Linked DNA regions of Homo sapiens. The protein of the gene in region 1 interacts with the protein of each later gene in a pairwise test. Each region holds a gene or a part of one and is shown in the gene's direction. Other genes may lie near its edges.

Region 1 (7,577 bases):
AGCTCTCCTGACTGTGGCTTCCTCCCCAGGATGTGCTGGGACACAGCTTGATGGGACCTAGCGTGCAACTCTTAGGCTGTTTGGCCACCATCTTGCATGCCATTTCTGAAGCTGGACACATTGGTGTGGATGCCTGCCACACTCAGGGCAGAATCCAACCTTATGTTATGCCACACCCTGAACCTGATCCCAGCCCTTCATAAAAGAGGCAGTCACCACAATAATGGGCTTTCTCCTTTAGAGAGGCTACGGGAGTTGCTCTCAGTTCCTTGTTGGGTATGAGAGAAGAAAAGGACCAAGTCCAGTCTCATGAGGTTTGTGGTGACTATCTGATGGGGGCAGCAAGGTGTCATCCCAAGGACAAAATCTCAGTTTCTTGCTTCATTGGTTAGTGGGTGAGATAATAGCATGGAATTTTAAAGGAAAAATAGGAAAGTACTTTTGATGCCTGGCTGCCTGAAAAACAGTTTAATTGCCTCTGCCGTTCAGGGATTTGCGTGGGCAACTCAGATTGTTTGACTTTATTTCAAAAGTGCTGTATATGGTAACCAAAGGCATATGTAATTTAAAACCCTCCATTTTTTTCTTCCCAAACCCTACTTGAATGTTGCGAAATCTATAGCTGCTTGGTGCCTTTTCACTAACCTGGACTCCTAGAAGAGCCTGTATTAGCTTCCTGTTTCTGCTGTAACAAATTACCATGGATTTAGTGGCTTAAAGCAATTCACAGTTATTATCTTACTATTTTGGAGGTCAGAAGTTCGTAATTCTTCTTAGTGGGCTACAATTAAGGTTCTTTCAGGGCTGTATTCCTTCTGGAGGTGTAGGAGACAATACTTCCTCTTGCCTCCAGCTCCTAGAGGCCACCTGTGTTCCTTGGCTCATAGTCCCTTCCTCCATCTTGGAAGACTCTCAGACTAGAGCTGTCATTGTCACATCTGCTTCTCTGCCCTTGACCCTCCTGTATCCCCCATATAAGGACCCTTGTGATTACATTGGCCCCACCCAGGCCATACAGGATACTCTCCCCATCTCAGATTCCTTCATTTAATCACATCCACAGAATCCCTTTTGGCATGAAAGTTAATATAGTCACAGGTCCCAGGGATTAAGATGTGGACACCTTTGGAGGACCCTTTCACCTGTTCAGTGCCTCCCTCTTTGCTAATACACTCCAAGCCTGACATGCTCTGACTCATTTGCTCTTCGTGGGCTGCCCAGGCTTGCCCATCTGTCATCTGTCATCACACTTTCTGCATTTGTGTGTGGAAGAGGTGATGCTTTAGTGTAAGGCAGTCACTCTATCTAGTCTGTAAGGTCCTTGAGCATAGGGATTCCCCTCACATTCTCTGAGCAAAAGCCAATGAAACACTTGCCCTCCTTTTACTTCACCACTGAGTTTCACATGTTGGGTGCTCCTAATAAAAACCCTGTTTCCCCTAAGCTTCCTGTTACCCTCTGTGCCTCTTCTCTCCCTCTATGGGTCATCACACGGTTAGTGGTAATGATGGAAGAATGCAGAGACTGTGGACACCGTGCCCCAAACCTCCACTGCCTAGCACACACACCCCCCATAATTGTCACCAGCTAAGGTCTGTGTGGGCCCTCTGGGGTCCCTAGTGAGGTCCCTCTTGGGAGAGGCACCCTATAGTGCTCAAAATATATTGGGCCACATTTTCTAATGGGATCACACCTACTTTTAGCCCTCTGGCTCAAGACCAAAAAAACCATGGGATGACCCCTTTTCAAATGCAACCCTGGGATCCTCTTCTATAGTGGAGGGAGAGAACATGGAAAGGTGAGATTAAAGAACACACTTCTGCCTGAGGTGCATCCTGGCTCCTGGCTTCAGTTTTGGGACACTGCCCACCCTTGACCTTTGGAGGAGAGGTGAGCCAGGCCTCTGGAATTTTAGCAGCAATGGGAGGGAAAAAAAGAAAATCCAGCATGGCATTTCTTCTCATGAATCACCTGGAGTTTTTCTTAAAAATTACTGGAGCCCACCACAGCCTTTCCAACTCTTGAATATGCTGGAGAACCCCTGAGTCAGGAGCTCCCAACAAAGAAGATCCTTGCCAAACAGGCACTTTGAGCTGCTTTCTCACAGCTCAGATCCCAGTGTGGACACCCAGGTCCCAAGACTGTGTCCATTTCCCCGAGGTGGAAGGGAGAGGAGCTGTCTTCAGGGGCAGATGTGCTACTGAGCATGCAAATGTGGATCCGGATGCTTCCCTTTCCATGTGCTCCAGCCCAGTGTCCCACAGCCTAGTGACCTTTGGGCATCTCTAAGTCAGCAGACCCCAAATGTGAGTGTGTGTGTGTGTGTGTGTGTGTGTGTGTGTATGTGTGTGTGTCACCATCATCCACTTAGCAGCTCAAGGCAGAGACCTGGAGGCTGTGGGTAGGGGTCAAGTTGACGAGGGGACATAGCAAAATGGTAATCACATTCAAACAACATTTCAAGTAGTTTACCCAAAGTCATACAGATTATAAATAATAAGTCTATGTTTGAACCCAGGTCTTCGGAATCCAGTTCCTCAGTCTTCCATCTGCTCTGTACTGCCTTTCTGTAAGGAATGGATAAAAAGTAGGCTCTGGCAGTCCATGAATACTGCCTTTAAATAGCCTAAGAGTTGTCGTGGAAGAATTTGCTTGCCCCGTAGAACTTCAAGAGTAGACCCAAGACCATTTAATGGCTTCAGAGAGGTACACATGCCAATCCAGTGTGACGAAACGTTTATCACTCATGGCTGGCCAAAATAGGGTGAGCTGTCCATGTCAGACTACTGGATGGAATGTTCTAGAAGGAACTGAAGGGTCCAATCCTCAGCTTCTGTGATTTCATGATCCCACCACAGGGCATTTCTGGGTCATGATGTTCATAATTATAACCCTTAGAAAGTTGTTACCCAAATAATATAGTTGAATGCTGCCATGTTCCAAGAAACAATTCAGCGGGCTGGGCATGGTGGCTCACACCTGTAATCCCAGCACTTTGGGAGGCCAAGGCGGGCGGATCACGAGATCAGGAGTTCAATGTCAGCCTGGCCAACATGGTGAAACCCCGTCTCTACCAAAAATACAAAAATTAGCCAGGCGTGGTAGCAGGTGCCTGTAATCCCAGCTACTGGGGAGGCTGAGGCAGGAGAATCGCTTGAAACTGGAAGGCGGAGGTTGCAGTGAGCTGAGATCGCGCCACTGCACTCCAGACTGGGCGAAAGAGCGAAACTCTGTCTCAGAAACAAACAAACAAACAAAAATTTGGCAAACAAAAATCCCCACACATTCCTCATTAGCATTCTTACATGCTCCATGGCAGTATTTCTTAACTCTTTTTCCCCCATGCATGTTGCCTAATCAATTCCTCAGGCACCTCTGCTCATCTTAATTCTCCCAGAAAACTTCCTCAGGCCCAGTTGCCGCTCTTCCCCTTTTTCTGTTGACTCTTCACCACCAAAGCCCTAAACTGCCTTTTTGATTTTTGGAGTGGGAGGGGGCAGCTTAAGTTGCAGGTCCCTCTGGCACTCTCGTGAATTTGTCCTTTCTGGATGACAGGCCATCTTTCTTTGCCCGGGTACAAGTAAGCGATTCATCCTTCCCTCTGCCTCACATCCCACATCACAGGAGCCCATGAGGGAAGCCCTGAAATGTCAGAGTAAGAGCTTGGATTAAAGTGAGGGATGGTTGGGGAAAAAACAGATTGGATTCTATTCTACTTTCTAAGTTTCTCTAGAACTAGGCTCTTCCTTGTTTCCACACTCTCACAGCCCTAGGTCAGGCCACCTTCAAGTCTTATCAGAAGTTCTCCAATGGCCTCGTTTCGGGTCTCAGTTTCTAGTCTTGCCCCTCCCATCCATTCTCTACATTACAGCCCAATGCAGATCTTTCTAACATTTTTATTTTTCTTTTCTTTTTTTTTGAGATGGAGTCTCACTCTGTCTCCCAGGCTGGAGTGCAGTGGTGCGATCTCAGCTCACTGCAACCTTTGCCTCCCAGGTTGAAGCAATTCTCTGCCTCAGCCCCCCAAGTAGCTGGGATTACAGGCACCCGCCACCATGCCCAGCTAATTTTTGTATTTTTAGTAGAGATGGGGTTTCACCATCTTGGCCAGGCTGGTCTTGAACTCCTGACCTCATGATCCACCTGCCTCAGCCTCCCAAAGTGCTGGTGGGATTACAGGCATGAGCCACCACGCCCGGCCCTTTCTAACATTTTTCTAGAGGGCAAATCTGATCATTCCCCTGCTTAAAGTCTTCATAGCTTCCCTGGCTCTCCTCAGTTTAGTCTAAACCTACTCCTGCCATTTGATGCCCTTTCTATTTGGCTCTGTGACTTCTCTAGCTTCATCTGTTTTTCCAAACACTTTGACTGTGGGAAGTTCTTCACCGTGCCTCCATTTGAGCCTTTGCTCAAGCTGTGCTCTCTGCCTGGGATGTCTTCCCCTCCTCTTAACTACTTGACAAATACCTACACCTCTTCCAGGATTCAACTTAAGCATCACCTCCTCTCTAGAGCACCTTCTGACTGCCTGTCTCAAATGAGTTCTCCAAGTAGACTTCTTCCTGCAAACCCATCGGCACCCATTCCATTTTCTTGTCTAGACTGGGCACTGCTGGTGGCCTGGGTTTTTAATCATCTATCACTGGCAGGCTGCACTGGGCGGGACCTACTATATACTCCAGTAAATGTGGAGTGAAGGGAGGAAAGAACTCTTGGGGCGGTTAAGGAGGCCTGGTGCATTGGAGTTTGATGAATTTGGGTTAAGGTACAAACACCCCAAGTGCTGTTTGCTCTTGGGCAAGTCCTTAGAATTCTGAGCCTCATTTCCTCAGCTCTGCCTACCTGCAGAACAACATAAGTGAAGTAACTAGTACAGTGCCTGCCTTACTGGAGGGGCTCAAATAGGCCCTCTCCACCAAGAAGCAGAAGAGGAAAGGTGTCCAGTAGTGAACAGGTTAGGCATGGAAATGCAAGGGGGCTGAGCAGAAACCTCTGAGACCCTAGTGTGCTTGGATTTCTAAAACTGCCGGCCACCTGCTCTGTCCGGGAGCAAACTTGAGTTAGAGAGGTGGGGGTGACACACCAAGAACCGACCAAAGCCAGGCCCTCCCCTGCTGCCTGAATGGACCAGCCCCGAGTGACATCACAATCCCGGGTGGTTGTCATGGCACTGCTGGAGGTGGGGGATCTCATTTCTCCCCAGGGGGCTCTAGGCTGTGGATGTGAGAAGGGGAGCAAGGGAGGCAGATGGCGACAAGGAACAGCCCCATGCCCCTGGGCACGGCTCAGGGTGACCCTGGAGAGGCAGGAACACGGCCCGGCCCTGACGCCAGCCTCCGGGACACAGGTGCGGCCACTCAGCTCAAGATGAAGCCCAGGAAGGTGCACAAGATCAAGGCGGTCATCATCGACCTGGGCTCCCAGTACTGCAAGTGCGGCTACGCGGGAGAGCCGAGGCCCACCTACTTCATCTCCTCCACCGTGGGCAAACGCTGCCCCGAGGCGGCCGACGCTGGCGACACCCGCAAGTGGACTTTAGTGGGCCATGAGCTGCTCAACACGGAGGCGCCTCTCAAGCTGGTGAACCCGCTGAAGCACGGCATCGTGGTGGACTGGGACTGCGTGCAGGACATCTGGGAGTACATCTTCCGCACCGCCATGAAGATCCTCCCCGAGGAGCACGCTGTGCTGGTCTCCGACCCTCCGCTCAGCCCCAGCAGCAACCGGGAGAAGTACGCGGAGCTCATGTTTGAGACCTTCGGCATCCCAGCCATGCACGTGACGTCCCAGTCGTTGCTGTCCATCTACTCCTACGGCAAGACCTCGGGGCTGGTGGTGGAGAGCGGGCACGGCGTCTCGCACGTGGTGCCCATATCCGAGGGCGACGTGCTGCCGGGCCTGACCAGCCGCGCCGACTACGCTGGGGGTGACCTCACCAACTACCTGATGCAGCTGCTCAATGAGGCGGGCCACGCATTCACGGACGACCACCTGCACATCATAGAGCACATCAAGAAGAAGTGCTGCTATGCGGCCTTCCTGCCCGAGGAGGAGCTGGGCCTGGTCCCGGAGGAGCTGCGCGTGGACTACGAGCTCCCGGACGGCAAACTCATCACTATTGGCCAGGAGCGCTTCCGTTGCTCTGAGATGCTCTTCCAGCCCTCCCTGGCAGGCAGCACCCAGCCGGGCCTCCCGGAGCTCACAGCTGCCTGCCTGGGCCGCTGCCAGGACACGGGCTTCAAGGAGGAGATGGCCGCCAACGTGCTACTGTGTGGCGGCTGCACTATGCTGGATGGCTTCCCCGAGCGCTTCCAGAGGGAGCTGAGCCTCCTCTGCCCCGGGGACAGCCCTGCAGTGGCTGCCGCTCCTGAGAGGAAGACCTCCGTGTGGACCGGCGGTTCCATCCTGGCCTCCCTGCAGGCCTTCCAACAGCTCTGGGTCAGCAAGGAAGAGTTTGAGGAGCGGGGCAGCGTGGCCATCTACAGCAAGTGCTGAGCCTCGGCATTTCCACAGACAAGGCCTCCAGCACAGATGGCCACAGGCCTCTCTATACACATTTACAGAATTTCACATAAAGGTTTACTCTGAAATGGCTCTTGTCTAGTCTGGGTTTCTTGCTTCTATCTGATAGCAGAGGGTAGGGGGGAGTCGGGCTTAGAAGCGGCAGCACCTTTTGCACTGGAGGTGGGGGCTGTAAGGAAGGGGGCTACCATACTGATCCCACCCCCTCTGCCTGCCTCATGATAGTGACATCATCTCAGGGCCTAGAAAGTGGCCTCCTGTTTTATTAGTACCTCCAGGTTCAAAACCTGATCCAAAGACACTCCTCATCGCTGGCTCAACTAAGGGGGTTGGCTCTGATGAAGGGACTAGCTTGGGTCACCTAGCGGTAGGTTGGAGGAGATGCACAGCTGGGTGTCCGACTCCAGTCTCCTGTTTCTGCTGTTCACAAGTGCTCCCAACCTTAACACTGCCTGATCACTCCAGGTTCCCTAACCTCCCCCTAGTGCCTGCCACCCTCAATATGGGAGCCTAAGGCTGTGCCAGTGCATCTCCAGAGTGTGAAGTGCCATTTCAACCCATCTGTGGGCGTACCCCTTTCAACCACAGCCAAAATTGCAGCTATTTTTCCAGAGTCACAAAGCAGAGCCACTGATTCCAGAGGATGTCAGAGGAACCAGAAGGTCCTTTAGAAATCGGGTCCTCTCCCGGCTATAGAGATGGGGAAACTGGGCTGGGTGCGGTGGCTCACACCTGTAATCCCAGCACTCTGGGAACCCGAGGCAGGTGGATCACCTAAGGTCAGGAGTTCGAGACCAGCCTGGCTAACATGGTGAAACCCTGTCTCTACTAAAAATACAAAAATTAGCTGGACATGGTGGTGGGTACCTGTAATCCCAGCTTCCCCAGGAGGCTGAGCAGGGAGAATCATTTGACCCCAGGAGGCGGAGGTTGCAGTGAGCTGAGGTTGCGTCATTGCACTACAGCCTGAGCAACAGAGCAAGACTCCATGTCCAAAAAGAAAAAAAAAAAAGAGAGATAGGTAAACTGAGACCAGAGAGGAGAGAGCCAGCTTA
Region 2 (7,571 bases), on another chromosome or scaffold:
ATTGCACTCCAGCCTGGGCAACAACAGCTAAACTGTCTCAAAAAAAAAAAAAAAAAATCCAGGAGTTACCTCCAGTTTACTTTGGCCCAAGTTTCATATACAAAGAACATTTAAAATAAGTTACTGCAAGTCCTACAAAGTAACTTGCACTGGGGAAAGGACTACACATGAAACAGGAACATATATGCCACCCCCTATGGGATACCTCAGAGGGATTTCGAGTTTGGTTCCAGACCACCAATAAAAGAGTCACACAAATTTTCTGGTTTCCCAGTGCATATGAAAGTTTTTCATACTAAAGTGTAGTCTGTTAAGTGTGCAATAACATGTCTAAAAAAATAATGTATATACCTTAATTTTAAAATATTGCTAAAAGATGCTAGGGATCATCTGAGCCTTCAGCGAGTTATAAATGTTGGTGTGGGGTATTGTTGAGGGCTGCTGACTGATTAGGGTGGTAGTTGCTGAAGGCTGGGATGACTGGCAATCTCTTAAAATAAGGCAATAAGGAAGTTTGCTTCATTTTTTTGTTTGTTTTGAGATGGAGTCTCGTTCTGTCACTCAGGCTGGAGTGCAGTGGCATGATCTTGGCTCACTGCAACCTCTGCCTCCTGGTTCAAGTGATTCTTGTGCCTCAGCCTCCTGAGTAGCTGGGATTACAGGTGCCTGCCACCGTGCCCGGCTAATTTTTGTTATTTTTAGTAGAGACAGGGTTTTGCCATGTTGGCCAGTCTGGGCTCGAACTCCTGGCCTCCCAAAGTCCTGGGATTACAGGCATGAGCCACTGCACCTGGCCATCCATTGATTGTTCCATTCACTAAAGATTTCCCTGTAGCATGTGATGCTGTTTGGTAGCATTTTATCCACAGACCTTCTTTCAAAATTGGGGTCAATCCCCCCAAACCCTGCCACTGCTTTGTCAACTAATACCCTGAATCCTTTGTTGTCATTTAAACACAATTCACAGCATATTCACCAGGAGTAGATTCTATCTCAATAAACCACTTTCTTTGCTCATCCGTAAAAAGCATCTCCTCATCTATCAAAGTTTTATCATGAGATGGCAACAATGCAGCCACATTTTCAGGCCCCACTTCCAATTCTATTTGTCTTGCTACTTCTGCCACATCTACAGTGACTTCCCTCACTGAAGTCTTGAACCCCTCAACATCAGTGATGAGGATTGGAATTAACTTCTTTCAAACTCCTGTTAATGTGGAGATATATGCATATACCTATGTATAATGTATGTGTGTGTGTATATGTGTGTGTGTATATATATATATATATATATATATATATATATATATATAAAATGGATAGGTATGTTGTCCTGCCTGTAAAATACCACCCAGTGTGCCAATTGAAATATATATAATTTTTAAATATTTATATATGTATTTTATATATATTATATATATATATATATATATATATATATATTTTTTTTTTTTTTTTTTTTTTTTTTTTAAAGAGTGTCTTACTCTGTCACCCAGACTGGAGTGCAGTGGCACAGTCAGCTGACTGCAGCCTCAAACTTGGGCTCAAATAATCCTGCCATCTTAGTGTCCTGAGTTGCTGGGAATACAGGCATGTGCCACCACTCTTGGCTAATTAAAAAAAAAAAAAAATTGTAGAGACAGGGTCTTGCATTGTTGCCTAGGCTGGTCTCAAAACTCCTGGCCTCAAGCAATCCACCTTGGCCTCCCAAAGTGCTGGGTTTACAGGCATGAGCCACTGTGGCTGATACATGTACTTTTAATTTTTCGTTTTTCTTTTTTTCCCCCTCTAGTCTCTAGTTACATACCGTAAGTGGATATTTTGACCTCCCATGAATCACAAATGTTCTTAATGGCATCTCGAATGATGAATCCTTTCCAGAAGATTTTCAATTTACTTTGCTCAGAACTATCAGAGGAATCATGATGACAGCTATAGCCTTATGAAATGTATTTTGTAAATAAGACTTGAAAGTCAAAATTTCTCCTTGATCCCTGGGCTTCAGAATGGATGTTGTGTTAGCAAGCACGATAACAGCATCAGTCTCTGTACATCTCTATCAGAACTCTTGGATGACCAGGTGTATTGTCAATGAGGAGTAATATTTTGAAAGGAACCTTTCTTCTGAGCACTAGAGCTCAACAGTGGGCTTTAAATATTCTCTAAGCCATGCTGTAAATAGATGTGCTGTCACTAACTAGCCTTTGTTGGTCCATTTATAGATCATATTTAGCATAATTCTTAAGGGCACTAGGATTTTCAGAATGGTAAAGGAATGTTGGCTTTAAAGTCATCAGTTGTATTAGCCCCTAACAAGAGCATCAGCCTGTTCTTTGAAGCTTTGAAGACAGGCATTGACTTCTCTCTAGCTATGAAAGTCTTAGATGGAATCTTCTTCCAATAGAAGGCCGTTTCATATACATTTAAGATCTGTTGTTTTGGCTGGGCACGGTGGCTCACACCTGTAATCCCAGCACTTTGGGAGACCGAGGCGGGCAGATTGCTCAAGGTCAGGAGTTCAAGACCAGCCTGGCCAAACATGGTGAAACTCTGTCTCTACTAAAAATACAAAATTAACCTGGACATGGTGGCACATCCTGTAATCCCAGTTACTTGGGAGGCTGAGGCAGAAGAATCGTTTGAACCCAGGAGGCAGAGGTTGCAAAAGATCGCACCACTGTACTCCAGCCTTGGTGACAAAGCAAGACTGTCTCAAAAACAAAAGATTGTTGTTTAGTGTAGCTGCCTTTATCAATGATTTTAGCTAGATCTGGATAACCTGATGCAGCTTCTACGTTAGCACCTGCTGCTTCACCTTGCACTTTTATGTCATGAAGATAGTTTCTTTCCTTAAACCTCAGGAACCATCCTCTCTGCTAGCTTCCAGCTTTTCTTTTGCAATTCCCTCACCTCTCTCAGCCTCCATAGAATTGAAGAGTTAGGGCCTTGCTCTGGATTAGGCTTTGGCTTAAGGGAATGTTGTGGCTGTTTTTATCTTCTATCCAGACCAACTAGAACTTTCTCCATATCAGCAATAAGGCTGTTTAGCTTTATTGTCTTTTGTGTGTTTACTGGAGTAGCATTTTTAATTTCCTTCAAAATTTTTTCCTTTGCATTCATGACTTGGCTTTTCTCCTTTGCACTCACAACTTGGCTAACTGGAGCAAGAAGCCTAGCTTTCTGCCTACCAACATTACTTCCTCACTAACTTAATCATGTTTGCTTTTGATTTAAAGTGACAGGCTCTTCCTTTCATTTGGACACTTAGAGGCCTTTGTAGGATTATTAGTTGGCCTAATTTCAAAATTGTGTTTCCAGGAATAGGGAGGCCCCAGGAGGGGGAGAGAGAAGGGAAAGTTCGGTGGAACAGTCCAAACACATACAGGGCTTATGGATTAATTTCCCCTTCCTTTATGAGCGCGGTTCATGGTGCCCCAAAACAATTGCAATAATATTAAAGATTACTGATCACAGATCACAACAGCAGACATAATAACAATGAAAAATTTTGAAATATTGCGAGAGTACCAAAATGTGACACAGAGACACAAAGCGAGCCAATGTTGAAATACAGGCAGTATCTGCTAAGCGGTATAAAACAATCTATGCCTGTACCTCTAGAAAGTACAGGCATAGCAAAGTAAGGAATAGCAAATGTTTGGGGCAGCTGGGATTAAATGAGTCCGAGCTCACACAAGTGATGTGAAATTGCCTCGGGCTAGGCGGTCTGTGTGTCCCCCCGGGTGGCAACTGGCATGTCCCCAGGGCACGGTTAGTCCCAGCGGGCCTGGAGGCGAAGACCGCGTACCTCTCCCTGCCCCCGCGCTCTTGGTCCCCGCGGGCTCCGGAGCGACTGGGAGGAGCTTTAACTCTGGGAAGGACCAGCCCGATCCACGGGAGCCCGGGCGGCGCGCAATCAGAACCAACTGGCCCCACGCTCGGGGGCAGGGGGCGGGGCCGCCGAGGAAGGGCCGAGGGCGGGGCCGGGCCCGGGAGCCTGTGGCTTCAGGAAGAGGAGGGCAAGGTGTCTGGCTGCGCGTTTGGCTGCAATGAGCTCGGCCTCGGGGCTCCGCAGGGGGCACCCGGCAGGTAGGCAGGGGGCGTCGACTGGGCACCGAGCAGGTCTGCGTCTTGCTCCGGCTGGAGGGGAAACGAGGGTTAGTGGACCGGGCGCGCGGACCGGAGTGGGGCCGCGGGTTCCTTCGGCTTTGCAGGGCGGCCTGGAGAAGTTGCACTCTTGGATTGAAGCGCTCAGGGCGGGTGGGGACGGTTTCGCGCTTCAGTCTAAGAAACACTCGGGGACCTGGCTGCCGCCTCCTGGCGGTCCCGAGTAGCGACGCCGGCGCCGGGGCGTGCCCCTGCCGCCTTTGTCCTCCGGGGCGATGAGCGCTTTCGGGGCGCCCCGGCTGTTTAAACCTTAAAAGGCTGTCCCCACGCGGGCCTGGCGTTCCCCCACACCTGGCCGTTTGAAATGTTGGGGGTTGGATCTTTTGTTTGCTCACTTCGAAAAGTGAAAAGGAGGGGTTGTTCCGCCGAGTCATAATGAAAACATAACAGGCCCGCGGGGTGCCCGGGCCAAGACCCTGGGTCCTCCCGGGCTTCAGCTGGAGGCGGCCAGTTCCTGGCGGCCAGCACACCCCGGTATCTCTCTTCTTCATCCAGGAAACCTGCTGCTGTCTGTCGGTTTGAGCCAAAACCACAATAACTTTTTTCTGCAAAGTAATCAACTGCTAAGAGCGTACGTTCTGTCACTTATTACTGGTAAAGTTTAGAAACTTCAAGCCTGGCCAGAGTGAAACAAACAAAAAGGTCGAAACGCCTGCAGTTGGCCGGCCGTGGTGGCTCACGCCTTGTAATCCCAACACTTTGGGAGGCCGAGGCGGGCGGATCACCAGAGGTCGGGAGTTCTCGACCAGCCTAACTAACACGGTGAAACCCCGTCTCTACTAAAAATACAAAAAAATTAGCCAGGCCTGGGCGCAAGCTACTGGGGAGGCTGAGACAAGAGAATCGTTTGAACCCTGGAGGTGGAGGTTGCAGTGAGCCGAGATCGCCCCACTGCACTCCAACCTCGGCGACAGAGTGAGACTTCGAATCAAGAAGAAAAAAAAAAAAAAAGAACGAAACGCCTGCAGTTGGTTAGAGTGCCTTTGTTTAAGAACTCTTTATATTTTGCTGCACAAAGGAAATGGTGCTCCAGAGGCAAGCTGTAAAAGTCACATGGTCGTAGAGGAGGTAGATAGGTAGCCTTGTCCTGGAGGCACAGTGCAGGGTCCAGTTGCAGTCTCTAGGGGCGGGAAGCCGGGGCTTTCCTTCACTCACCTGCTCCCTTCCTCTTCTTCCTCCACCGCACTCCCCAGTGCATGTTCTAGGCCTGATGGAGGTTACTCTACATAGGGTTACTAAATACATTGTTGATGGAGCCGATGGGTAGATTTTCATAGAGAGTGCAGTGAATGAAGACGATGACAGTAGAATGACCGAAGTCGTTTGGGAAGTTGAACAAAGTTTAGAAAGGTAGCCGGTCTCGGGTGGGAGGGGCTGCGTGGGGATGGGCCTACAGAGACTTTGGAATCTGTAGGTGGGCTGGCTTTCAATCCCAGCTTCACTTTGCCGACCTTGGCACGCCTGGCCCACTTTCTCTGTCCCTGTTCCTGAGCTGTGGAGCTGTGAGATAAGGTATCTAAGGCATCAGGCCATCAACAAATGGTAGCTGGCAGGATTATCTGGAGGGACTATCAAATTAGAGTGAGGTGAAAAAAGGAATGATTAGTTTTGTAAAACCTAAGCTGATTTAAGGAATAAGGAGGTGGCAGTTACATTATCCTGCAAAGGAAGAGAAGTGAAAAGAGGGCCAGACACAGTGGTGGGCGCCTCTAGTCCCAGCTACTGGGGAGACTGAGGCAGGAGAATCGCTTGAAACCTGGAGGTGGACTTGCAGTGAGCCAAGATTGCGCCACTGCACTGCAGCCTGGGCGACAGAGGGAGGCTCTGTCTCAAAAAAAAAAAGTGAAAAGAGGTCAAGAATCAGGTTTAAAGAAGGGCACATTTTTGATAAGTAGATTGCAGATGAAAAGGAATTTCTATATCTGTTATACAGGGTAGCTCCTTCATTAAAATTTATTTTCTCCATATCAATAAAGCTATTTCTTACTTTATCCAGGTTTTTAAATATTAACGCAGGCCGGGCGTGGTGGCTCATGCTTGTAATCCCAGCACTTCCAGGAGGCTGAGGCAGGTGGATCACTTGAGGCCAGGAGTTCAAGACCAGCCAGGACAACATAGCAAAACCCTGTCTCTACTGAAAATACAAAAAAAAAGTAGCTGGGTGTGGTGGCGCATGCCTGTAATCCCAGCTACTCAGGAGGCTGAGGCGGGAGAATCGCTTGAACCCGGAGGCGGAGGTTGTGGTGAGCCGAGACCACGCCACTGCACTCCAGCCTAGGCAACAGAGCAAGACTCCATCCCAAAAAGATAGTAATAAAAAATAAATATTAATGCGGCATAATGATACTTAAGTGCCCCCTTCTGGAAAGCTTGTCTTCTTGGGATACACAGCTCAAGGTGGTCATGATGTGTTATTTTCTCTCAATCTGTGGGTAAAGTTTATCAACTCCAGAAAAGTATTGGAACTTAGGTCCTGGCATCTGTCTCCATAGCTTTTTGTTCTGATTCAGTGTTTGCTAGAGTGGCCACTGGACCTGGTCATTAACTGGTACTGCAGGATGCAGGGTGCACTTTGTGAGAGTGAAGGTAAGTTACAGCTGGCCAGCATCAGAATTGGGATGTCCAGAGCCTAGGTTTTTTTCTACATCCGTAGCATTAACAAACAACAACAACAACAAAAAACTTAAAAAAAAAATCCCTCACTGAGGTTGCCAAATCTGTTAACTTTGAAACTGAATGTATTAAGAGATGGGGTCTAGCTCTGTTACCCAGGCTGGAGTATGGTGACTATTCACAGGGGCAGTCATAGCACACTATGTCCTAGAACTCTTGGGCTCAAGAGATCCTCCTGCCTTGGCCTTCCAGGTAACCGGGACTATAGGCTTGCCACTATGCCCGGCCAGAACGTCATTTTAAACAGATTTTCTTGAGCAGCTACTTAATACTAGTTAGCCATTCCTAAACCTGTAGGTCTTGACTAATGTGAGGGCATATTTGAGACAACCCAAACTCACATCTTAAGTTATTAATTTTAATGTGTCAGCTAACAACTGGGAAGCTACTTCTTTGGCAATATGAGAAACAAGAGTTTTAAAGACCCAAGCAAGAATACATCTCCAGTGTTTTCACCCTGAGGGATATGAGTTAGTTTGCTGAGCAGCCATTTGGCACAGCTTCCATGAGTTAGGTTGTGAGCCGCCTTCGGCTCAGCAGTCAGTATGGAGCAGAAGCCACAGGAGGTGAGCCGCTGGCCTGCTGCCACCGAGGAGGACACTGAGACATGAGTGCTTTCCAAGTTGTGCAGAATTTTGGCATGTGAGGAGGATGGTTGTGACATATGGATTTAATTTTCTTGAAGTTATTGTTTCTTTATACTCTAATTGGTTAAAAGATAAGCAGGTGAG

What was found. Proteins that work in one complex are often made in the same cells at the same time.
Region 2: the proteins of ACTL7B (region 1) and CASP6 interact in binary tests that used the Homo sapiens proteins (3 or more experiments, as listed by UniProt).

Annotation. Positions count from the first base shown.
Region 1 is NC_000009.12:108,853,601-108,861,177, reverse strand, and holds ACTL7B (actin-like protein 7B), read left to right. Parts: upstream 1-5,191; 5' UTR 5,192-5,247; coding exon 5,248-6,495; 3' UTR 6,496-6,590; downstream 6,591-7,577.
Region 2 is NC_000004.12:109,699,874-109,707,444, reverse strand, and holds the start of CASP6 (caspase-6 isoform alpha precursor), read left to right. Parts: upstream 1-3,999; 5' UTR 4,000-4,049; coding exon 4,050-4,089; intron 4,090-7,571.